Homo sapiens: one gene and its partners. The protein of the gene in region 3 purifies or fractionates together with the protein of the main gene of each other region. This does not show direct contact. Each region holds a gene or a part of one and is shown on either strand. Other genes may lie near its edges.

Evidence for each region.
Region 1: the proteins of DOK2 (region 3) and TMOD3 purify together in Homo sapiens (affinity purification with mass spectrometry; one large-scale study listed by BioGRID and IntAct). This does not show direct contact.
Region 2: the proteins of DOK2 (region 3) and STK38L purify together in Homo sapiens (affinity purification with mass spectrometry; one large-scale study listed by BioGRID and IntAct). This does not show direct contact.
Region 4: the proteins of DOK2 (region 3) and MINDY3 purify together in Homo sapiens (affinity purification with mass spectrometry; 2 studies listed by BioGRID and IntAct, with this or other methods). This does not show direct contact.
Region 5: the proteins of DOK2 (region 3) and LANCL2 purify together in Homo sapiens (affinity purification with mass spectrometry; 2 studies listed by BioGRID and IntAct, with this or other methods). This does not show direct contact.
Region 6: the proteins of DOK2 (region 3) and TEK purify together in Homo sapiens (affinity purification with western blotting, with the first as the bait; 2 studies listed by BioGRID). This does not show direct contact.
Region 7: the proteins of DOK2 (region 3) and DPP7 purify together in Homo sapiens (affinity purification with mass spectrometry; one large-scale study listed by BioGRID and IntAct). This does not show direct contact.

What each region holds. Positions count from the first base shown.
Region 1 is NC_000015.10:51,888,653-51,892,152, reverse strand, and holds part of TMOD3 (tropomodulin-3), read right to left. Parts: intron 3,098-3,500; coding exon 3,008-3,097; intron 1-3,007. UniProt on the Homo sapiens protein: Blocks the elongation and depolymerization of the actin filaments at the pointed end. The Tmod/TM complex contributes to the formation of the short actin protofilament, which in turn defines the geometry of the membrane skeleton.
Region 2 is NC_000012.12:27,306,786-27,310,285, forward strand, and holds part of STK38L (serine/threonine-protein kinase 38-like), read left to right. Parts: intron 1-1,553; coding exon 1,554-1,676; intron 1,677-2,328; coding exon 2,329-2,412; intron 2,413-3,500. UniProt on the Homo sapiens protein: Involved in the regulation of structural processes in differentiating and mature neuronal cells.
Region 3 is NC_000008.11:21,910,891-21,914,867, forward strand, and holds the start of DOK2 (docking protein 2), read right to left. Parts: upstream 2,801-3,977; 5' UTR 2,712-2,800; coding exon 2,649-2,711; intron 1,621-2,648; coding exon 1,339-1,620; intron 1,099-1,338; coding exon 1,011-1,098; intron 1-1,010. UniProt on the Homo sapiens protein: DOK proteins are enzymatically inert adaptor or scaffolding proteins. They provide a docking platform for the assembly of multimolecular signaling complexes. DOK2 may modulate the cellular proliferation induced by IL-4, as well as IL-2 and IL-3.
Region 4 is NC_000010.11:15,777,674-15,780,507, reverse strand, and holds the end of MINDY3 (ubiquitin carboxyl-terminal hydrolase MINDY-3), read left to right. Parts: exon of another isoform or gene 1-659; intron 660-1,366; coding exon 1,367-1,516; 3' UTR 1,517-2,334; downstream 2,335-2,834. UniProt on the Homo sapiens protein: Hydrolase that can remove 'Lys-48'-linked conjugated ubiquitin from proteins.
Region 5 is NC_000007.14:55,427,837-55,431,336, forward strand, and holds part of LANCL2 (lanC-like protein 2), read left to right. Parts: intron 1-538; coding exon 539-611; intron 612-3,389; coding exon 3,390-3,484; 3' UTR 3,485-3,500. UniProt on the Homo sapiens protein: Necessary for abscisic acid (ABA) binding on the cell membrane and activation of the ABA signaling pathway in granulocytes.
Region 6 is NC_000009.12:27,196,225-27,199,724, forward strand, and holds part of TEK (angiopoietin-1 receptor isoform 1 precursor), read left to right. Parts: intron 1-1,090; coding exon 1,091-1,375; intron 1,376-3,500. UniProt on the Homo sapiens protein: Tyrosine-protein kinase that acts as a cell-surface receptor for ANGPT1, ANGPT2 and ANGPT4 and regulates angiogenesis, endothelial cell survival, proliferation, migration, adhesion and cell spreading, reorganization of the actin cytoskeleton, but also maintenance of vascular quiescence.
Region 7 is NC_000009.12:137,111,934-137,116,090, forward strand, and holds the start of DPP7 (dipeptidyl peptidase 2 isoform 2 preproprotein), read right to left. Parts: upstream 2,801-4,157; 5' UTR 2,781-2,800; coding exon 2,714-2,780; coding exon of another isoform or gene 2,644-2,713; coding exon 2,530-2,643; intron 2,450-2,529; coding exon 2,310-2,449; intron 2,096-2,309; coding exon 1,932-2,095; intron 1,564-1,931; coding exon 1,428-1,563; intron 1,355-1,427; coding exon 1,273-1,354; intron 1,187-1,272; coding exon 1,020-1,186; intron 873-1,019; coding exon 812-872; intron 298-811; coding exon 179-297; intron 97-178; coding exon 1-96.

The DNA of each region.
Region 1 (3,500 bases), on a different chromosome or scaffold from region 3:
ATCTTGAGACAGGGTGCACTGATTATCCAATAAATTCCATCTAAGAGTATCTTGTTACTTTCAAATATCACACACACACAGCATCTTGAGAAGATCAACTTAGATGAAGGTTTGAAAATTACTTTCCCGAGGTCAGGTGAAAAATCTGAATATATTTAGTCTGGAGAAGTACCTATTAAAAGAAGTTATCCTAGCTGTTTTCAGATTTATCCTGTAGAAGTTGAGAAGAGACAAATTTAGTGCTGTTCTGAGAGGCTGCGTTAGAACAAGTATAGATTGCCAAGAAGCAGAACTTGGTTCAAGACAAGGAAAAGCTTCCTAATGGAGCTCTGCTAAACAACAGAGAGTGGGATCCCTCTCACTTAAGTTCAGCAAGGTAGTCTTCAAGATAGCTAGGGAAGAACTTCCTCATTGAATGGAAAATTGAATAGTTCTAATTTTATAAAACCAAAAGATTTCTTTCCCCATTCCACACATCCTGTGGAGTGGGGAAAGATGGAATGGGGAGAGAAATCTTAAGAGCCTTGCCCCTTAATGAAATAATGAATCCAGTCAATGGGATGCAGGAATTATTAAGCAAAAGGTTCATGGGAAACTTAAAAAGGATGGGTCAGGCTGCCTACATTTGAACCCTGTGATCAATCTCATTCCCCCAAAGAGGAAGGATTAGACTTCATAAGCTTCTTAATATGATTCAGTCACCACCCATGAAGCATTCTTGCCAAAAGGGACCTGCACCTGCATCTCATCAAGCCACTAGAACTAACAGTTTACAGAAACATAGGTGATAGAAAAACATAAAATGATACCATAAGGTTGAAATCAGCCAAATCCAGAATGTGGAAAATTCTACGAAAAATAAACCCAGTTTCTTAAAAAATAAATGGCACAGAAAAAAAAAAAAAAAAGGAAAGAGGTTGGGGAGGAGAACTGTTAAGAAATTAAGGGAGACTAAAAAGACAAACAACCAAATGCAGTGTGTAACCTTTTTTGAGCCAATCATGAAACGACATTTTGGAGAGAACAGAGGAAATCTGGACACAGACTGGGTATTACATGATATGAAGAAAATACCGTTAATTTTTAAGTTTGATGATGGCATCATGATTACATTAAAAGAAAAGCCTTTATTTGTGAGACACACATATGGAAATATTTATAGGTATGTAATACAAATGAACAGGGTTTGCTTTAAAATACGTCAAGAAAAAAAAGTAGAAGGGTTAGGAAGGGAGACAGAAGATGAATAAAACAAGGCTGGCAAATGTTAAAAACAGCGGAAACTGGGTAATGAATATATTATTCTCTCTTCTTCTATGTGTGTTTGAACATTTCTACAATAAAAACTTAAAAATGAGAAGGGGGATGGTCAAATTACAAAACATCGTAGAAAGGAATGTTATACACATGTCTGAATGATGTAGATGTATACATATTAACTAGAAAACACGGTCGACTGCTAAGTGATACACTATATAACACGGGTTAAAATCCTTACCACTGACTTTGTGTAAAATATTGAGGTTACCCAATTATTTTAAAATGTCAGCTTTCTCACATGCAAATTAAAAATAATAATATCTATTTCATAGAACTGTTGTCAGGGCTAATAAGAGTACTTCACGTCCAAGAGCTGTGCACACAACATGGCCCACAGTAAGCATTCAAAAACAGTTGGCCAGGCACAGTGGCTCATGCCTGTAATCCCAGCACTTTGGGAGGCTGAGGTGGGCAGATCACCTGAGGTCAGGAGTTCGAGACCAGCCTGGCCAACATCGCAAAACCCCATCTCTACTAAAAAAAAAAAAAAAAAAATTAGCTGGACAAGGTGGCGTGCACCTGTCAAATCCTAGATACTCAGGTGGCTAAGGCAAGAGAAGCGCTTGAACCTGAGAGGCGGAGGTTGCAGTAAGCCAAGATGGTACCACTGCACTCCAGCCTGGGTGACAGAGCAAGACTCCGTTTCCAAAAAAAAAAAAAAAATTAGCTAATAGAATTATTATTGAAAAATTAAGTTGCAATAAATATTTACAGTATAATCGATTTTTTGTAAAAAATAAGAGACTATGTATAATATGTATACATTAGTATAAACAGTGCAAAGCCTGGAAGGGTATATACAAAATTGTTAACAGGGTAGGTGGTGTTTGGGGAAGTAGAGGGCATGATGGCTGGAGACAGAGACACTTTTACCTCTTCCCATAAATACTTATGTACTGTTTAAATGTGCTACAAAGGCATGTATCACCTTGCTAATTTAAGAACACCCTATACATGAATTTATTTTTTGAGATAGGGTCTTGCACTGTTGCCCAGGCTCGAGTGCAGTAGTGTGATCACAGCTCACTGCAGCCTCAAGCTCCTGGGCTCAAGCCATCCTCCCCTCAGCCTCCCAAGTAGCTGAGACTAGAGACATGTGCCACCATGCCCAGCTAATTTTTAAAATTTTTTAGAGATGGGGGTCTACGTTTCCAATGCTGGTCCTGAACTCCTGGACTCAAGCAATCCTCCTGCCTCAGCCTCAGAAAATGAAATTACAGTCATGATCCACCACACCTGGCCCCTATAAATGAGTTTCTGAAAAGCTTTGCTTTAGGCTATATAATACTTCACATCAGACTGAAAGGTTTAGGGGCTGAATAGTTTTGTGGTATCTCCTGAATCTGATTTTATAATGTAATTTCTTTGTAAGTACTGTTATGTATTTCTTGAAAATTAGTAGTAGTGATAATAAAATGTCAACAAAACCAAGTTGGACTAGCTTTTATACTGTTTAGCATTATTTAGTGAGGTAGAGTGGTTCTTATTACATTTGCTGACCCATTAAACACAAAATATTTAATACTCTATTTTCAATGGCTTTCTTGGTTAATACCACCAAACTGAAATGTCAGGTTTCAAGTACATATATATAACATCTAGTATGTGAACACTTAAGCTGACACAAGGCGAAAACAAAATATATTTAATAAAGGATTAGAATTCACAAAGCATTTTAAGTACTCACTTGAAAAATGTTCTTGGTCAACACCATTACTACTTCCCATTATATTACAGAACTTTGTATTCGTTATCAAATTGTGCATCCCAAGAATTGCTATAAATACAGAAAAAGAAAGTTTTTATTGTTTTAAACATGAAGAGTTTTACAACTAAAAATTTCTATCAATAATTTTAATATCCTCTGGACCTTTTCCTATAAATTACAGATCACACACCCACACAGAAAACAAAATGATTAAAAATCACCTATAATCTCATTCTCCTCAATACTCTTATTATTTTCCCCCACATTTCTAAATTTACATTTCCCCACATTTCCAAATTCAGAGTTGGAGGCAGCCTAATCCTGAACATAAATCTATGCTTAGCTCCATCTAGTGGCTAAGAGAGAAAATGGAAATGATCTATTTTTGCCGTTCATTAATTTCACAAGGTTTCTAGGAACATAATATGACAAAAAGCAGATTTTTAACTTAACCTTCATATTTTAATGTGTG
Region 2 (3,500 bases), on a different chromosome or scaffold from region 3:
CAGGCTGGAGTGCAATGGGATCTCAGCTCACTGCAACCTCTGCCTCCCGGGTTCAAGTGATTCTCCTGCCTCAGCCTCCTGAGTACAGGTGCATGCCACCACGCCCGGCTAATTTTTGTATTTTTAGTAGAGACGGGGTTTTACCATGTTGGCCAGGATGGTCTCGATCTCCTGACTTCATGATCCATCCACCTCGGCCTCCCAAAGTGCTGGGATTATAGGCGTGAGCCACCACACCCGGCTTATCGCCTCACTTCTTACTGAAAAAAATAATCTTTCATTGTTGTTTGCTTACTTTTTCCATAGTACCATTGTATTTTATAATCAATATCAGATGTGGAAAAAGACATTTAAAAAAAGACATTAAAGACATTAAAAAAAGACATTAGGCAAAGCCTGTTAATTTGTGTACTTGATTTTTATCTTCATTACTGTCATAATTTACACCATTGGTGTGCCTTAGTGTATAACTTCATTTAGCTGTTTGAAGACATTTCTTGATTTCATCTTCTTAGATTAACTTTGTTAGAAGTATCAGAATTCCATTGCATTGATAATACATGTTTACATACATATTTCTAATTAATAGTTCACCTAACCCTTTTAAAAACAGATATATACAGGAGTAGGGAGAGGCTATACCATGAGCTGCATTTAGAAGCAATGTTTCTAAGCTGTTACTTTCATTTTGATTTGTCTGTCCCTCCAAACTGAACCACTAAAAGCTTGGCAGGATTCAGTTGAAGATGAACAGGAGTTAAATTTTTTCACTGATATTGTTTCTTTTCCACTTAGTGTTTCCTCTACTAGGAGCTAACTATGTCCAAAAACAGAATTTTGATTGGTGAGGGTGAAAAATGAAGTTTAGAACAATAAAATAAATACCTGTTCCAAATGTAACCTGCAGGTATTTCACAGTATTGCTTATTAATGGAAGTTATTTTTTGTGGTCTTTGTAGAATCAGTTATGAAATTACCAACTTGGATATTTTAATGACTTCTTCTTGTAATTGTTTTTGCAATTTTATATTTTCAGGAAGTTCTATGCCAGGTCTCAAGCAGTTTATTAAAATTTGCCCAAGAGTAAATTCTACCACAAGTAAATCTCTTTGGAAACACTACCATTATGTTGTTATTTTATTGTCACAAGTCTCAGTAGTTGTGAAAGAGCAACCTTGGAAATTAAGGAATTGAAGCAAAGCAGATTTCCTGACAGAATAAAAATCAGTATCAGAATACCATTAACATTTACTAACATTTAATTTTTATTTATGGAATTGTTACCATATAGATGAAAGAATAAGTTATACATATATATATATATAGACAAATATGATGGACTGAATTACATATTTAATGGAGTCCACCTCAAAAGTAAAGATTTATCAGTTGTTAAAAATTTTAGAAAGTTTTCTTTAAATTGTTTTAGCCTAATAGTATATTACATATTAGTGCTATCATTTATTTTTACGTGTATCATCTTTTAATACTAGAAGCTCCATCAAAACAACCTAATTATAAAATCATCCGTTTAAATTGTTTTTTTTTAATAGAAAAAGTTACGTCGATCACAACACGCTCGCAAAGAAACAGAGTTCTTACGGCTCAAAAGGACCAGACTTGGCTTGGATGACTTTGAGTCTCTGAAAGTTATAGGAAGAGGAGCTTTTGGAGAGGTGTGCTTCTTTTTAAAAGTCACTACTGCTGCAAATATATATCTTAAGATAATTTAAAATATGTGTTAAAATATAATTCCTGGCTGGGTGCGGTGGCTCACGCCTGTAATCCCAATACTTTGGGAGGCCGAGGCGGGTGGATCGCCTGAGGTCAGGAGTTCGAGACCAGCCTGGCCAGTGAAACCCCGTCTCTATAAAAATACAAAAATTAGCTGGGCGTGGTGGTGGGCACCTGTAATCCCAGCTACTTGGGAGGCTGAGGCAGGAGAATCGCTTGAGCCCAGGAGGCAGAAGTTGCAGTGAGCTGAGATCCCACCATTGCACTCCAGCCTGGGCAACATGAGTGAAACGCTCTCTCAAAAAAATATATATATGTGTTTGTATGTATATATAAAAAAATATATATAAATATAAATATATATAAATGTAAATATATAAATATATATAAATATATATTAATATATATAAAATATATATAAATATATATATAACATATATAAAAATATATAGATATAAAAATATATAGATATATATATATAAAATTCCTGAAATACCAACACTGGCAAATTCCTGCTTTCTTTAAGGGAAGTTACTTTTCTTTCCTGAACAAATAGTAGTGACTGTTTTATAATATATGTTTTTTATCTTTTAGGTGCGGTTGGTCCAGAAGAAAGATACAGGCCATATCTATGCAATGAAGATATTGAGAAAGTCTGATATGCTTGAAAAAGAGCAGGTATGAGTTCTTTAACACATGTAATATAAAGGAGCATCCACTGACGCAGTGTTAAGAGTGTTTATATTAGAATTTTTAAGAAGCAGTTTACACATCTTACTACATAAGCTATTAATTTTTTGGTAGCCTGTTTTAGTGTTTCTCAGTTCTTTTAAGGTTTCTTCTAAATTTATAATCTATGTATGTCTGCTTAGACTTCCATAACAGAACACAACAGGCTGGTTAGCTTAAACAACAGAAACTTATTTTCTCATAGTTCTGGAGGCTACAAGTCAAAAATGAAAGTTTGGGCAGGTTTTGGTTTCTGGTGAGGCCTCTCTTCCTGGCTTGCAGATGGCCACCTTCTCACTAAGTTTTCACATGGCCTTTCCTTGGTGTGTGCGGGGACACACACTCCTGTGAGAACTCTCTGGTGTCTCTTCTTATAAGGACATTAATTCCACCCTTATGACCTCATTAATTAACCTTAATTAATTCCCTAAGGGTCCATCTCCAAATACAGCCTCATTGGAGATTAAAGCTTTACTCTATGAATTTTGTAGATGCATGAACATTCAGTACATACCTTCTGAAATACCTCCTTTTCTGACTACAATGAAAATAAAGGACAGTTCTCAGCTCCCAGAATCCCTGTCACATATCAGATAATCAAAACTAGTCTCCTGGAAATTTGCTGATTTTACATATTTCTAAAATCTGTAACCTTGTAAATATTCTGGGCTCTCTGCATGTTTCCTGTGCCTTAATGCAGTTACAAGGGGTGGCTTCGAGTAAAGGAGGGATGGCTTTTTGAATATTTAAGGAGAGAAATTGTGAAATGGTCATTTTCAGGTGCGGGAAAGCAGACCTGCTAAGGAAATGCAGTTGAAGGCTCATTGAGATTTGCAGTCATGAATTTAAAGTGAAACCCATTGGCATAGCTGGGTGATTTTTCACCCTAGTTTCAGTTAGGTTAAGAAGGTAATAGGAACCATCAGGAGACAGGGTTATAGGGGATTTTGTTGATGACAGGCTATGATTCCCCAGAGGGAAGAGGTGTGGAAGGCAAGGAAGGTTGAGATACTGAGTTGGATTAGAGAACTATAGAT
Region 3 (3,977 bases):
TTAATGGGAAACAGCTGGCCTGCCTCACCACTGCCCAGTTCTAAATGAGCGTACCAGAACTTTTCTAGAAAGTATTATCCACACACTTATGGCCCCCTGCCTGGGTCTTGGAGGCTGAGCTGCTCTGTGCCAGGTCATACTCCCCAAAAGGCCAGGTACCTCCACCCCCTACCCTAGTAGGCATCACGCCCCTACCCACATCCACCCCAACCTCGTGCCCACATCCTTCCTGCCCCTGTCGCCAGAGCCACAGTCTTGTCTTCCCCACCCCATCTCTCACCCCAAACCAGCCACCACCCTAGTCCCTACGGTCACAGCTGCAGGTGAAGCCTTGGCCCTGCCCTCCCACTGCCGGGGCCCTGGGGGTGAAGCTTAGATGGAAGGCAGATGAAAGTTTCTCCTCCCTCCACCAGCTCCTCAAAAGCAACACCTGGGGCCAGGCGCAGTGGCTCATGCCTGTAATCCCAACACTTTGGGAGGCTGAGGCAGGTGGATCACCTGATGTCAGGAGTTTGAGACCAGCCTGGCCAACATGGTGAAACCCCGACTCTACTAAAAATACAAAAAATTAGCCAGGCGTGGTGGCCGACGCCTGTAATCCCAGCTGCTCAGGAGGCTGAGGCAGGAGAATCGCTTGAACCCGGGAAGCGGCGGTTGCAGTGAGCCGAGATTGTGCCATTGCACTCCAGCCTGAGCGACAAGAGCAAAACTCCGTCTCAAAAATAGAAAAAAGCAGCACCCTCACCTGGGCCCCCAGCCTTCCCCTCTCCCACCAGCAGGCCCTAGGTAAGATGAGGTGAACCAAGGGAGAGACTCAAGGCAGGGTAGGCTCCCTACGTTGGGCTGCACCCGGAAGCGAGAAGGAGAGGCTGATAACGGGGCTGGCCCAGGCTGGGGATAACCACAAGGCAGGAAGACTCGGGGCCAGCAGCTAGCCAGCCCACACCTCCTCTCCACCTCACCCTGGGGAGAGCCCCCAGGGGAGAGCAGGGCAGCCCCCGCCCCCTCACCTGTGACTGCGCTGCTGTACAATTCATTTTCCTCCATGCAGGGCCGGCTCTGCTTTCCCTCTGGCCCCGAGAGCTCCTTCCTCTGCCCCTAGGGAGGAGGCGCCCCGTCTCATCACCTTCCCCGATCCCCAGGCCCCCCTCTGGCCCAGGCCTTCTTTCAGGCCACCTCAACCTGCTGGCTCTGTCTGCACACTGGGTTCGGGTCCCCCCACATGGAGGAAGCACCCCATCACCCTGACCTTGACACCTGTAACACTTGCCCACAGGAAGTATCTAACACCCTCGGCCTGCACGCCCCCTTGCCCTTTCCGCACCCCGCGCGACTCACGGGGAAGGCCAGGAGGCAGATGGCCTGCACCCAGTCGCCGCGCTCCGCTGCAGGGGCCGCCAGGAGGTACAGGCGCTCCTTGGTCTCCAGGAAGAAGGCACTGGTGTCCCGGGGGCTGCTGGCCTCTCCGCCGGCCTCGGCCACCCGCAGGCAGTCACTGAGGCGGATGACCTTCCGGGCAGCCTCACACCGACGAGGCTTCTCCGGGCCCTCCTGCAGCTCCAGCCGGGCCAAGGCGCAGTCCGACCCTCCATACAGTGAGGCGCCGAAGCGGCGCCATTTCTGTGCCAGAGGCGTGGGAGGCGGGGGCGGGAGGGAGCCACCCAGAGACGGGGAGATCGTGAGCCAAGGGGAGAAGAGGAACCGTGGGAGGGGGACTGGGGCAGCCACTTGGAGATGGGGAGAGAGAGGTGAAGATCACATGAGACCCAGGGAGGCAGAGAAGAGGACAGTGACTGCAGGAATTAGAAAATCGGAGATCAGCCGCCAGCCCCGAGAAGGAGGCCCACGAGCAAGAGCAGAGACTGCCCAGGCAGAAAGCAACGCCGGGATGAGCCCAAAGCAGGCTGCAAGAAGGCCAAACAGGCCCACCGCAGTGGACTCCAGTCTGGGGAGGAAAGCGGGGCAGTGGCCGAGGCCCAGAGGAGGGAGTGAGGAGGGCGGCGTGTGACCCGGGCTGGAGACCTCATTCTCCTTCTGTGCGAAATCCTGAAGGAGAACTTCTCTCCACCCTCCTGAACCTTGCTGCCTCATTCCTTGATAGGTTGGGCCATGAGAGAGAGACAGGTGTGCCCCCCAGTGTTGGTTAGGGGACGAGGACTTCCTGGTTCAAGGAGGCCAGGGAAGGGGAAAGAGGATGGACAGCCGGCTGGGGTCCAGGCCCCCAGAGGCCCCAGCCCAAGCTGAACACCAGCCACATGCACCCCACTGGGGTTGGGAAGGAACCTCTATTGTCATCCTAAACTGTCCCTCCAGCTGCCCCTTCCATTCCCTTCCAAGGTGTCCGGTGAAAAGAAGTCAACATAGAGCAAGAGAGCAAAAGAGGCAAGAGATGAAAGCAGCACATCCCCCACCCCCACCCAGGGCAAACAGCCCTCAGTAAGGAGCACAGTTTGGGACCTGGTTGGGGCCTGGTTCAGGAGACAGCGTCGGGTAGGAAAAGAGCCCTCCCAAAGTTGAGCTCTGGGTCTAACTTGGTGGGTGCACAGTCAGACCTATAAGGGTTTTGAATATGAAACTCCCTCTCCAACCCAGGAATTCTAGCAGCCTCCCAGGCCCCCTGCCCAACCCCAGCCCAGCCTCACTCCTACCTTTCCAAACGTCTGCTGCTGCTGAAGATACAAGAAGCCTTGTTTCACTGCCCCGTCTCCCATCCTCTGACCATCTCGGAGCCCCAGGCTTCAGCTCTCTCCTTCACTCCTGCCCTTGCCTCTCTCTTCTTAGCCGTGTGTTTCCCTTCTCTGAAGTTCATTTCCTCTCTGCCTAGGGTTTTCTATACTATTCTAGTCTGCTCGATGACGACAGGCTGATAGGCCCTGCGGTTTCTTCTGAGTGTGTGTTCTTTTTTTTCTTTTTTTTTTTTTTTTCTGAGTGAGTTTTATACTCAAGCTTCCTGCATTTCCAGTGAGTTAGAGACAATTTCCAAAAAGCTAAATGCCAGCTCTTCAGTGAGCAACAATTCAGGTACAGAAGTTGGCACAGGGAGGCGCCAGCAAAGAGTGGCTGGCCCACTGGAACAGAGACCCAGAAACCAAACTAGACAGTGAAATCAGTAGTGAAGGCCCCCCCCTCCAAGCTGTACGCAAGTTGGAAGGGACAAACCACTAAGTTACAAATAAGGAAACAGGCTTGGAAAGTCTGAGGGATTTATTCAAGGTCACCAAACCAGAACCCAGGTCTCTCAACGCTTAACAGCTGAATGACACACACGGCACTGCACAGAGAGACACATAAGACAGCTCATGTGGGCCTAACCAGATACCAGTTTCACAAACACACACACACAGAGAGAGAGAGAGAGAGAGAGGCAACCGTTTAACTACATGCGAGCACTCCCTGTCTGCCAACAACACACACTCACACCAACCCTGTAAAGATTCTAGAAAGATGATCATCCCCTCTGGAGAAGGGACTGACTCCCCAAGTACATCTCAACTGTTGGATTTTTGCCTTCTTGCAAGCATTCCTGAGCATTAGAAAGATGCTTAGGTTTCATCTGCAAATTATCTTAAGTTTCAATAGCAATCACTTTCATATACATTTTGAAAATGGTTCAGAGTTACCGAAAGTGCTTCGTAGCTCGCAAAGCTTCTAGGCACACACTTTTCATCAGCCACGCCATCCTTTGACAAAGGCAGGGCAGGTATGAACACACTTATTTGCAACTTGCCTGAGGTCACAGAGGTAGTTGGGGGCAGAGGAAGAAGTAGAGACCAGGGCTCCTGATCTTTAATTCAACATTTTGCAGGGCCCCTAAATGGAATCCAGATCCATGCAAAAAGATCCATTGCTGTGGGGAAATCCAAGCTGCTCAGAGAAGTTTAACTTAAAGCCAGATGGTTTAGAGAAGCAATCTGTATGGAGGCACAGTGCAGAAGGGTTGGAAAAAACTGAGACTCAGACCAACACTCTTGGGGTTA
Region 4 (2,834 bases), on a different chromosome or scaffold from region 3:
GACATGAGTACATGAAGTTCTTTGTGAAAAATAGGGCCGATTGTATTTAACTTAATAACTTGAATTATATTCTTTGTGTATAACTTTTCAGAGAAGGCAGTTTTGCTTTGGGGACTGAAAAGCCCGAGTTGTAGTTTCAATGTCAATTTATTTCATCAACACTAGAAACTAATATATTAACTAAAATAAAGATGCCAAAAAATGTATTTCACGTTACAATGTATCTTTAGCACTTTCTTAGGAATGAGTAGATTCATGACACAAGATTATCTGATCTAGTAATATATTCTATTCCTATATTTAATGTGTTTTAGAGGCAACTACCATTTAAGGATAATAAAGTTGTTTCTTTTGGCTCCTTAAATAGCTTATGGCTTTTATTTTGGAAGAACATAATTACACTCATGTGTATCAGCCAGTGAATGTGTAAAAATAATTTTATACACTTTGGAAGAAGACAGTCGTCTGTATCTGTTTCTTTTAAATTATACAGCATCAGAATTTCTCTTGGTACAAAAAAGAAATTAACCACCAAGGAGTGCCTTAATGTCCACAGTGAGCCCTTGGTAATGAGTTAGGGTTTTTGTTGATATGTCCAAAATACTTTTTAAGTATGTTTCATTGTAAATTAATCAGAATAAAATTTTTCTTGCTATTCACCTGCCAGTATATATTTCTGTGATCACTGCCACTGCATATACAGTATCTGGTTAGTTTGATCTTTCAACGTCTCTTTTACTTTTCTTTCTGTCCTGACATCCTTTTTAATTTTTTTCTCCATGATTTTTCATGCTGTACAGAATGCACTCATGAATTGCATTTCAGGAATATTTAATACCATAATAGCAAGTTTTGTTGACAAACATTCAAATTGGTTTCAGCTCTAGAAATTCAATACTTAAATTAGAAGGAGACACATGTTCCTCAGAACATAATAGCTATATTCCTTTTATAGCTCTCCGTTTCATTAGGCAGCATGAGCATCTGAGAACCTCAGTATTAAAGCAGTAGGACCTGTATAAATTATATGTAAATATGATAATTAAGCATTTCTTTCCGATGGTATAGATCCGTTGAAGAATGTTTTTTTTCTTAGAAACAATCTATGTGTTTTAGGATTCACATGATCTTGAATTTTTTAAAAATCACCTGGCCAGCTAGCAATTAAATATCGTTTACAAATTTACTTTCACATTAATCAGTAAGCAGATATTCCTTCTCATTTCTAGCAAAATAAAATTACATGTCAAGTTTCATCTGAAACTATGTAATACCTTATTTGCTAGCCTCTAAAAATTGTTTTCATTCCACATAAGAATTTGCTAAGACTGTTGCTTGACCTTGGTGGCTTTATTTTGTTCAACAGGTCATGTACGTAGAAGGGACTGCAGTTGTGATGGGTTTTGAAGATCCCATGCTACAGACAGATGACACTCCTATTAAACGCTGTCTGCAAACCAAATGGCCATACATTGAGTTACTCTGGACCACAGATCGCTCTCCTTCACTAAATTAATTTGTCTAAGTATTTATAAGGAAGATCTTAATAACAGATGTTGAAAGAAGGAGTCAAGACTGGCAATTGGCTGGATTAAGCTAAACACTGGTATCACTGATTAACTGTAAATAACAATTAAAAACACATTTTCAGTGTTTATGATATGTTTAAATTATTTGTCCTAAAGCTTTATGTTAAAGATTATCCTATTTTACCCCTTCGTGTGAAATTTACTAGCAAAATTAAGCTTTCATCAAAGTTCATCACTTTTGCATTCAGATACTTGGTCATTTACTTACCAAATTACAAACGCAATACTACAGCATTTGTATATTAAGTATCACAGTTACTATTGATAAACTACTTTTGGGTTTTATTTCATTGAGGCACTTTTTTTATTGTTTGAATGATTCCGGCTTGTAATATATCAGCCTCTACAATGAAATGCAGAAGAGTTCATTTTTCTAAGATCTGTTTTTCATTAGAAATATTGACAAATAACACATTGTCAACCTGGATCCTTTGACAATTTACTTAACTCTGGCATGTTCACAAAAAGTAGAAACTCTAAGAGACCATTACCATTTATTCACAGATGTATAGGGGATGTATTCTAAAAACTGACAGAAAAGAGAATCTGATAGTCAACACTGTTAACTTTTACTGTGTAATTGCCAAATACACTTTTCCAAATTTGTCCCAACAGCCCTGTAAGCCAGCTTTCTTCTATATTTATAAACACGATAAATGCATGAGAAGATCTGTTATTACATTAGTATATTACGTTATTTATTATGATCCTAGTTGATGGCCTAAATAAACACCTTTTTCTTTAACTGTACCCTTGCATTTTTTACATTGGTGGCTCAAAATAAACAAATACGTACTTCTAAATGTTTCTACCCAATAACCCTGAGAGCACAGAGTACTACAAATGGCTAAGTCATACAGGACCTCGAATAAGAGACCAGGCCTTATGCTAACCTAAGAGCTCTGCTAACTCAGCCAGCCAGAAGCATGAGAACCCACATGGCAGCTTTCTAGACCAGTGAGCAAAGATGCAGAAGCCCGTTTACTTGAGAGAGAGATCTGCTGTATTCTGATAGGTTTGTGGCCCAGCAATTTAAAATCACATAGCCATTAATACTTTTTTTCCTCCACGTGTAAAGCCACGTGTAAAGCAGATAATTATGTAGTATCCTCTTACACATTTCAGAACTGAACATTACCTTCAATAGTATAGTTCCTGTGTGAATTTCTGTTTGGGTTTTGTTTTCTTTCGTACACACACACAATTACAATATAATTAAGCATAGGGAAAGGCATGAGATTTTGT
Region 5 (3,500 bases), on a different chromosome or scaffold from region 3:
GGAGCTCAGAGGAGAGCACAGGGAGGGCTGAGGGCCGGGGGCTGGGAAGGTGGAGAGGCTGCCAAGCAGCAGCAGCAGCTGTGGAGGGGCTGCAGTGAGAGGCGGCGCCCCAGGCAGGGCTGAAGCTGTTTCCCAGCTGGGGCCAGGGGAGCCAGCAGCTGCTGCTGAGAGCCATTTTAGAGCCAGGGTTTTTTGTTCAGGATAGAGCAGGCGTTTCGAGTTGCTTCTGGAATCATCAGCTGAAGCGGCAGGAGGAAGGTGCCAGGGAGAACAGAGTGTCGTTGAGCCGTTCGGTTTTCACCTCGGACTTCCCAGCAGCTGTAAGGCAGACCCCACTCTACAGCTGAGGCAGCCGCAAGCAGAGCCTTGCTGGGCCTCACCCCTGGAAGAGGGGGTGCAGTAGCCCATGGAGCCCACGCTGAATGCCCTACAGCTGGGGGTCCACTTCCCTGATGCCTGTGAAGACATTGCATTCTCATTTATTGCCTTTTCACCAGGTAGAAACTCCAGTCTTAAAAAGAAATCCCTTTCTTTTCAGTTTGCAGAGTGGTGTCTAGATTACGGAGCACACGGGTGCCGCATTCCTGACAGACCCTATTCGCTCTTTGAAGGTAAGAGTGAGAAAAATGCTATAGATTAAATGTTTGGGTGAAATTGGTTCTCCTGCCCTTGTGGACTGGCACTGTTCATATTTGACCTGGCTCAAGTAATACTTCCAAACTGTAAAATAATCAGCAGAGTAGCTTATTGCTGAAAATTATGTTGAATCTCTTCACCTTACCTATTGTTTTGTGCTCCTGTGAATGTCTTCCAAGTGTTCTTAGGTTTTTTGTGAGGTGTCTATGCAGACAGAACGTAGAAGGCTTGCTGTTAGCAATGGAAGAAATAGTTTACTCCTCTGCATTTCATCTGTAATGTTGCATATTTAATATTGGTGTATTCATGGGAAGCTTGAATAATTACTTAAATATATTTAATATCATATAAAGAAGTATGAATAATTAATATTAGCAATTAGAAATATTAGTAAGTAGAAAAAATAGCAAGAGTGAATATTGAAGAAAGTTCTGAAAAGAGGAGCACTGATAGGCAGGCAGTGAAAGCAACAAGGATTCCAGAGTCCACCACGGGCGCAGGGAAGGGAAGACAGGAGCACAAACAGAAGCCCCACAAACAGGCCCGGATATTCGTTAGATTTGTATGTGGGTATGGGCGTGCTTTCTGTTTGCTAACATTTTGGTAAAGGTTTTTGCATCTCTATTCATGAAGGATATTGGCCTACAGTTTTCCTGTCTTGTGCTGTCTTTCTCTGGTTTTGGTATCAGGGTCATACTGACCTAATAAACCATGTTGAGAAGTATCTTCTTCTCTTCTGTTTTCTGGGACAGACTGTGTTAATTGGTGGAAGAATTGGTATTAGTGTAACTTAAATGTTTGGTAGAATTCTCCAGTACAAACTTCTAGGTCTGGAGATTTATTTTTCTAGACTTTTAAAATAAATTCCGTTTTTAAAATAGTTATAGGGCTGTTCAAGTTATCTATTTCATATTGGGTGAGCTGTCATAGTTTGTAATTTTTGGGAAATTGGTTAATTACGTACATGTGGTGAAATGCAAATATGTAAGCTATTGGTATTCCTTATCATCCTCTGTCTGCATCGTCTGTAGTGGTATGTCCTGTTTTAGTTTTCATACTGGTAATATTTTTAAATCATATTTTAGAAATACGAGCAGAAAACAGAGCATGTGTCACATGTTTTGCAGAAGATGATCTTTTTTAATATTCAGAGAACTCATAAGGAAAAAGTACTTACTAGAATAAAAGTTGTAGTCCTCTATGTCATAAAAATGCAATGCATTTGCATCAGATATAACAGAGTTAATGCCTGAACTCTAAATGGAGTTTATCAACTTGATAATAGCACCTTCAGAGCCCCAGTGGGTCAAAAGCTTTGGATGTACAGCTCCCTAAAGGCGGGAAGTTAATAGGTCACCTCCTTCCCCTGTGCCTCGCCAGTGCCTGGCAGACAGAACTGTGGGGGACTCTCACCAAATTCCCGTCAGGGGACGGAGGGATTATTAAGCCGTGTGCCTAGCAATGCAGGCCATTGTGGCAAACTGGCCGGCTGGAGGAGCCACTGGGAGGGCTCACTGGCACCTGGCACCCCTTCTGGAGGAGCTCACTCCTGCTGGAGTGCACCGCCCAGTGGATCCGCTGCCCACACACCTGAGCAGGAAAGCCAGGCTCATCCCCGCAGGGCCTGCTGTAGGGCCTCCTAGGCTTGTTATGGGTCCCTGTTTACTTCTCATGGGCACTCCTAGGTCAGTGGTTTTCTAATTTTTTAAACAAGTTTCTGGAACCTTTCTTTAAACAAAAACTTACAGAGAAGGCTGGGAACACCCCAGATGACCGTCAGTAGGAAAAATGGGTAAACAATCTGCAGTGTACTGTTCAGCAGTAAGAAGGGGCCAACTATGAACAGGCACAGAACGTGAATGAATTGCAGGAACCCTGACGAAGGAGCCAGATACAAGGGCTGTACACTGTGGCCATGCTCATAAGAGTGCCAGAGCAGGCAGAACTAATCCATGGTGGACCAAGACCAGGCTGCTGGTTACCTCTGGGGGGACCACAGGGATGGGAGGGACTGGAGAGGGGCACTTGGAACTTCCTGGGGTGATGGAAATATTCCAGGTCTTAATCGGGTTTTGTTTGCACATGTATATGCATTTTACAAACCTCAGAGAAGTACATTTTGGATTTATGTGTTTTATTGTACGTGAATTTTACATCAAAAGAAAAACTGTAAACAAAAACCCTGTAAGGGAGGATTGTTCTGATTTGAGTGGGGACAGGAGACCTGGAGGCCTTGGTGGGCTACTAGCACCTTCTCCACCCCACACCCTTCCTAAGCTGCTGTGAGTCTAGTTGAAAACCCACTGCTCAATTACTGCAATGATTTGGGGTGGGGATTTTGACCAAATTGAGGTTTGTTAAAAATAACATTCTTCAAATATCAAGAAGATATAAAATGCAACTTTGAGCATATACAGGCTCTGAGGGGAAGCTCCGTGTATAGGAATATCGTAATTAGCAGCATCCATAACTTCCATAGCGATTCTGTGATGCCACCTTAAAGTTTCAAGATATAAGATTAAAGCCCAGTAACCAGTTTTTTAAATATAAGATAGTGAGGAAAACTGGTGTTATTATATTACCTGCCAGGTGCTAAATATAAGGATATCTTTGGTTTTTAATGAAGTCATCTTTAGAGTCCTCAGCACCTTTCCCACATGCTTGCAGCCCCTGGTAAGGGAAATGATTAAAAGTCACTGTTATAGACACTACCCTTATGCCATTCCTAAGAGGCTCCTCATTTTACATTGCAGGCATGGCTGGCGCTATTCACTTTCTCTCTGATGTCCTGGGACCAGAGACATCACGGTTTCCAGCATTTGAACTTGACTCTTCGAAGAGGGATTAAAAGGTGCAAAAAGACA
Region 6 (3,500 bases), on a different chromosome or scaffold from region 3:
TTGAAGTCTCTTTATTGGGCTTTCATACTTATCCTAGTTATCTATTTTTCCACTGAATGGCTATATCATAATTTATTAAAGCAGTTTCCTATTTTGAGTGTTTAGGTTTCTTCCAATTGTTTGCTGTTATAAATAATGTAATGAATCATTTTGGTAGGGAAAAAAGTATCATATGGGCCACTTGCTTGTGTTTCTTTGATAGCTTATGAGGTGGTATCTTATTCTAGAAGCCAAGGTTACTCTTAAAAGGTGCCCTTTAGCGCTGTCATTGACTCCACCCTTGTATTAGTCTGTACTTGCATTGCTATAAAGAAATACCTGACACTGGGTAATTTGGAAGAAAAGAGGTTTGGCTTTTTACCAAGCCAAACAGTAAAAACAGTAACCATTGGCTCATGGTTCTGCATGCCGTATAGGAAGCATCTGCTTTTGGGGAGGCCTGAGGGAGCTTTTACTCATGGCAGAAGGCAAAGTGGGAGCAGGCACTTTGCATGGTGAAAGCAGGAGCAGAAGAGTGAGGGGGGGCGGTGCTATACACTTTTTTTTTTTTTTTTTTTTTTTACTGTTTCATAATTTATTTATTTTTCCATGGAAATTATTTAACATTTTATTTTCTGACAAAGCTCCTGTTTATTTTATTTTTTATTTTTTATTATACTTTAAGTTTTAGGGTACATGTGCACAACGTGCAGGTTAGTTACATATGTATACACGTGCCATGTTGGTGTGCTGCACCCATTAACTCGTCATTTAACTTTAGGTATATCTCCTAATGCTATCCCTCCCCCCTCCCCCGGCAATTGAACAATGAGAACATATGGAAACAGGAAGGGGAACATCACACACTGGGGCCTGTTATATACTTTCAAATGACCAGATTTCATCAGAACTCACTCGGTATCAGGAGGACAGCACCAAGGGGGATGGTACTAAACCATTCATGGGAAGTCACACTCATCAACCAATCACCTCCCACCAGGCCCCACCTCCAACACTGGGGATTACATTTCAGTATGAGATTTGGGTGGGGACACTAATCCAAACTATATCAGCCATATATAAAAATAATGATTTTTCTGGATTCTCCTAGGACTCCCTCCTCCAAGAGGTCTAAATCTCCTGCCTAAAAGTCAGACCACTCTAAATTTGACCTGGCAACCAATATTTCCAAGCTCGGAAGATGACTTTTATGTTGAAGTGGAGAGAAGGTCTGTGCAAAAAAGTGATCAGCAGAATATTAAAGTTCCAGGCAACTTGACTTCGGTGCTACTTAACAACTTACATCCCAGGGAGCAGTACGTGGTCCGAGCTAGAGTCAACACCAAGGCCCAGGGGGAATGGAGTGAAGATCTCACTGCTTGGACCCTTAGTGACAGTAAGTAATTCATGCTGCTCCAGCCTCATCTGAGCAATAAGGGGCTACCGCCATGCAGACTTAGCTAACATCACTGCAGGACTATTGGAAATTATGAAAGAAAGTTAGTTGTGAGAGAAGGCTAATTAGTGCCCCCCACCTAATCATTTTAATAACTTGCAATATATAACATATATTTGGATTTGCAATAATTCAGGCAGGTCTGTGCTAAAATTTACCTTCCCTTGGTGTGCAGTTGTTTATTTAGTAAATTAGTAACAAGAAGTTTTTCTAGGGCTTGTTGAACCATTTATGGGGTAGTTTTGAAGAATTATCATATATCTACATGTACACAGATGTCAGTTAATTCCAGATGGGTCTTACCTAACCATAAAAACCAAATAACTTTGCTTGAAACCCCTTGAAAACAGGTAATTTTAAAAGTTAAAAGATTTATCTAGGAGTAATAAAATCACTTTTTTTTTCCAAAGTATTTTGCATTTCAGGCTTCTCAATTTCAGATTGGTCATTTAAAATTAATGGGAATTTCTTGGGTTTCTTTGTAGTATTGAAAGTCTATTCATTACTAAACTAAGCAGAGAGTTTTATTTTGATTCACTGAAATTAGAACTGTGTGCATTTGGAACCCTTGGAAAGGTAAACTATTTCTTGGCCACACACAACTACCACTGAAGTCAGGATCATGTGGTCTATGGCCTTACCACCCTGAACACACTGGATCTCATTGATCCTGGAAGCTAAGCAGGGTCAGGCCTGGATGGGAGATTATGTGGTCCCTTGCCACCTCCCAGAGTCTGAGGCTGTCTTTGCAGCTGGTTCTCCACTTCCTCAGGAACAGGTGTGGAAGCTGGCTCAGTGTTTCTTTGGCCACTCTTTTATTGCATCAGTGACTTATGAAAGTCTGAATTGTTTTGTCAGTGTTTAGGAATTCTTCATATATAATGTTTAATTCTGTGAAATTTCCAAGGTGCAGAATCATGCTAACAGTAACACAACGAACAATCACATTCCTCCCATCCAGAATTAACAACTGTTAACATTTTGTCATATTTGCTTTCAGCATTTGTTGTTGACTTATGTAATAACCCACTACAGGTGTATCAGTATCTCCTGCAACTGTTATCCCTATCTATTTCTATTCCCCTCTCCCAAGAGACAACCAAAATTATGAGTTTGTTAAGTATATTTTAATTTAATGTTGTATGTATATATTTTTTGAGACAAGGTCTTGCTCTGTTGCCCAGGCTGGTGAGCAGTGGTGCCATTATGGCTTCTGCAGCCTTGGCTTCCTGGGCCCAAGCAATCCTCCCACCTCAGCCTCCTGAGTAGCTGGGACCACAGGCACACGCCACCACACCTGACTTTTTTTAAAAATTTTTTTGTAGAGATGGGATCTCCCTATGTTGCCCAGGCTGGTCTGGAACTCCTGGGCTCAAGCAATCCTCCCGCCTTCGCCTCCCAAAGTGCTGGAATTACAGGCATGAGCCACTGTGCCAAGCCCAATGTTCTATAATTTTAATATCTCTGAAAGTATACACATGCATACATATCATTCTTCATTTTTTGAATGGACATTATGAATTTTATCGATCCATGTTTATTTAGCTTTGATGCATGTAATTTTAACTTCTGTATAATATTCTATCTTATGAATGTATCTTGTCATTCATCCTCTCCCTTTTAGAGGGAGATGTAGGTTTTTTCATTTTTTACTATCATGAACAAAATGCAATGCCCATTCTTATGCATGTCTCCATGTGCATAGACAGGTGTGAGAGTTTTTCTAGGAACAAGTCCGGTGGTGGAACTCATGGGCTATTTCCCTCTAAAGTGGTTAGTCAGTGTGTACTATGTTCAGGAGTGTATGACAGTGCCATTTTCCTTATACCCATCTCTATGTCTATATCCTTTCCCTATATCACTCGATAGTGTCACACCTTTTTACTTTGCGTATCTCAAAAGCAAAATATGGTGCCTCATTGTTAATTTCAATTTTGATTTCCTTGATAGCTAGCAAAGGTGAGCATCTTTTTATGTTAATTGTCCTCTTTTTTGATATACTTATTGATATACTGGATGTCCTCTTTTTTGATATACTTATTGATATCCTTTGCTCATTTGGAAT
Region 7 (4,157 bases), on a different chromosome or scaffold from region 3:
GCAGTACCGCTGGCGGAGCTCGTCAGTGAAGGGCAGGTCCGGGAACATATCGGTCACATTGTTGCTGGCGAAGGTCAGGTTGATCTCGGTGCAGGCCTGCAGGTGCCCCAGCCTGAGTCAGGCCAGCCCACGCCCACCCTTGCCCCCGAGTGGTTCCAGGCCACCCACACCCCCACACCTGGTAGTCCCAGGCCCTGGCGTCGGGGCCGGTGCCGCAGCCAGTGGGGTCAGCACAGCTGTGGTAGAGCCGGTAGATGTCGTAGCAGTGCTCGGAGCCCGAGGCGTTGTAGACCAGCCCTGGGGAGGAGAGGCGCTGGGGCCCAGCGGCCACACACAGACACACCGCGGGCTCCGGCCACCAACCTGTCCCCCCTCGGAATGGTCCTGCAGGGGATCTGGGGCTCTGGGATCTGTAGGTCCCAGTGAGGAAGGCCCTCCAGGCTACCTGCTTGGAGGTCGGCGGTGTCTGTGCTGCCAGCCCCGGGCCTGACTGTTGAGGGCCCCCCCGCTCTCCACGGGGCAGGGTGGGGCCTGCTGCCCTCTGTTGCCCTCCATGCTGGGGACCCCAGGGGCCCCTTGGGCAGCACCCACCAAGCTGGGCCTGGCTACAGCCAGTGCTGAGAGGGTCCCCAGGGACGGCCCCTGCCTCCCCCAGGGTTTCTGGGAAGGTCGTGCTGTCCACCCCACCACAGCCCTGGGGCAGGAGGCAAAGCCCCTGGCCGGGCTGCGGATCCTCGCCCCACCCGGCCCCAGGACCCAAGCCAAGCCTGGGGTCTCCACACTTGCCCATCTGGGGCCGGGGGAAGGGCACCTGCCAGTGCTCGCAGCCCCGTGATCCTCTGGGCCTCACTCAGCAGCCGATCACAGCCCACCTGGAGTGCAGGGGCAGCGGCGACTCAGCGGGGTCCCCTCCACCAGCTCCGCCTCCCTGGCTCCCAGGATGAGGGTCAGGCCGCTGACCACCAGCCTCGGGACACTCCAGCCGGCCTCTCCCTGCGCCCTGGGAGGCGGCGCCTCACCTTGACGGGGTTGGCAGGGAGGGGACCCAGGAAGTCAGTGGGGTAGGGGTAGTCCATCATGGCCAGCACGGTGAAGGCATTCCGGGCGAACATGAAGAGCTGGGTCAGGTCCTTCTCGTCTGACAGCGGCTGGCAGGTGCCGAACTCCCAGCGGACCGTGTCGTAGGCTGCGTGGAAGGGGCAGAGACTTGAAGTTTGGGCATAGCTGGCGCTGGGGCGGGTCAGGCAGTGGGAGGCGGTGGGAGGACCTCACCTCCCTGTAGGAACAAGTCCTTGATCTGTCGGAACGCTTCCCGCACACCCTGGGTGCATTTGGGACTCTGGCCCTCAAAGTCCTGGGGGAAAGAGACCGTGCTGACTGCAGCTGCTGTCCCTTAGGGGGCCTGGAGGACCCCAAGCCTCACTCACCGCCGTGACGTCCCGGAAGAACTGGTTGGAGTCGCCGAGGCCTGCCACAGCTAGAACGGGCGCGCTGGCCGCCAGCGCCCCCGCCACCAGGTGGGGATACTTCATCCTCAGGTAGGCACTGAGCATCCCCCCATAACTGGGTGAGGGACACAGGGTTAGGGCTGCTGCCCCCAACACCCCATTTCCTCTTTTCCTCCTCAGGGGCCCACAGGTGCCACAAGGAGGACGACACTTCTGAGACCCACAAATTCCAACCCTGGGCCAGGTGCGGGTGCAGCTCTCACTGGGAAAGGCCGCTAGTGTGGCCGCACATCCAAGCTGAGCAGGTGGCTGGGAGGACAGGTGGGAGGGCTTCCTGGGGGAGGCAACACTAAGCCTGGAACCACTGCCTGAGGCCTTACGAAAAGGCAGCGGTGGGAGTCAGAGGGGAGTGGGGAGAAGGGCTGGGGGCGCTGGGTCGGGGCAGGGGAGGGAGGGGGTGCGGAGGCCGGGGGAGGCGCCCACCTTCCACCGAAGGCGATGGCGGGGGCATCCTGGGCCCCGAGGTCGCGTCGTAGCGCGCGGAGCAGCTCTGCGAAGTCGGCCAGGGCCTGCTCCACCGTCAGCAGCTCCGTGTGCCCGCGCTGCGTGGACTGCGCACCGAACGGCAGCGACTTCCCGTAGTAGCGCTGGGGGAACGTGCCATTGAGCCCGGCCCCGCGACCCCGCCCGGCACCCGCGTGCCCCGCGACCCCCGCCCGCGACCCCGCCCGGCACCCGCGTGCCCCGCGACCCCCGCCCGCGACCCCGCCCGGCACCCGCGTGCCCCGCGACCCCCGCCCGCGACCCCGCCCGGCACCCACGTGCCCCGCGACCCCGCCCGCGACCCCGCCCGGCACCCACGTGCTCCGCGAAGACCAGTAGAGCCCCCCGCTCGGCCGCCAGCTCCGCGACGAAGGCCGAGTTGTTGGCGAAGGCCCACACGTCGCCCTCGTTCCCAGTGTAGAAGAAGATGGGCCCCTCGCCCCGGACCCAGAACCTGTCTGTGGGGAGGGCGGATGAGGCGAGGGTGCCGGGGGGCGGCGGGACGGCGGGGGCGGCCGGGCCGGGGCCGGGGTCTCACCCGACACCAGGAAGCGCTGAGGGAAGGTCTTGTTGCCGAAGCGCTCGAAGTTGAAGTGGTCCAGACGCTGCTGGAAGAAGCGCTCCTGGAAGCCGGGGTCCGGGGCCCTGCGGGCTGTGGGGGGACGCGAACCTCAGAGGCGGGGCCGGGACCGGGGAATGGGCCGGGGGGCGCCGCCACTCACCCCCCGCCTGGAGGCCGCGCAGCCCGAGCGCCAGCAGCAGGACCGGGGCCCAGGGAGCGGAGCCCATGTCGCCTTCCGCGGGCGCCCGTCACGTGGGCGGGGTCACGGGGCCGCCAGGGCGCGCTCCTCCCTCCAGGCCCCACGTGTTTCGGGCGCCCGCGGTCCCCACGGAGACCGTCGCTGCTTCAGCGCCGCGCCGGGGCTGTGCCCCCCAACACCCCGCGCCCCGCGGCCGCTGCCCAGGGGTCCTTCCCGGGCACGGCGCGGGGAAGCAGAGGGCCCCCGGGCCATCTCCGCGGCCTCCCGCCCCACTGGCTCGTCCTCCTACCGCGGCCCCATCCGGAGCTGCGCTAGGGCGAGTCCCTGCTGCGCCCGCCAAGCCTCCCCAGCACTTGCTCCTGGCAGGTGCCCCACTCCAAGGCAGGGCCGGGAGAGTGGGGGCCGTTCTGCTGCCCTAAGGGCGGGAGGGAGAGGGTCCCAAACAGAGTGCTGGCCCCCCGAAGAAAGCAACCCAGGGTTTGTCCAAGCGATAACGGGCTGGGCTTGGCGGGGCGGGGCCTCGCAGCGGGCAGGAGTGTGGGGTGCCCCTGGAGCGTCTGGGCAGGGCCGGGATGTGGCCGGGTAGCTCCCAAGAGCTGGGAATCGCCACCTGCCCTTCCGACTGGCACCCAGTGTGCCCACACAGCCCTGCAGGGACAAGGGGGGACCAGAGGCCTCTGCTGGGAGCTGGGGCCTCCTCCCTGGGGAGCACCCAGAGGATGGAAGAAGTCACCTTTCCCCAGCGTCCAGTTCAGGGAGTGGGTGAGGGGGCCGTAGTGGTGGGTGCCAGACTAGCTACGTGGAGTCCTGCTGGGGATGTACATGGGCCGCTAGCCAGGCCCAGAACAGGTGCAGGGGCAGCAGGGGCTCAGCTACAGAGAGTTACCCTGTCCTTCTCCCAAGACTACCCTCGGCCAGCATGACCCTGCCCTGCCCATCCTGTGTGGGGCTGAGCGGAGAAGACCGGCCACTTCCACAGCCCCTCACGCCATGGCCCTCCCGTGCCTCACACAGAGGCACCCCCCATGGTGGGTGACTGGTGGCTGGGGCCCTCAGCATGGTGGCAGTGACCATCACGTCACACTGCAACACGAGGTCATCCAGGGCCACACACCGTCCCCACCACGGCCCTCACATCTGGGCCCTGTCCCATCCCTACGCAGTTCCTGGGGCTGCCTGCCGGGGCCCCCGCAGGACGGGGGTGAGGACAAACAGCAGACCTCCTTGGATGTGGAGGTACCCCACGGCGTCCCCCACCCCACACCTCTGCTCCTTTGGCTCCCTCGGGTGCCTTAGGTGGCCAGAACTCCACCAGCAACCCTCACCCAGGACCGCAGCTCTGGAGACGCCAGCTAGGCCGAGAGCTGGCCAGCTCCCCAAGCACACCAGAGCCTGGAGACGCTCC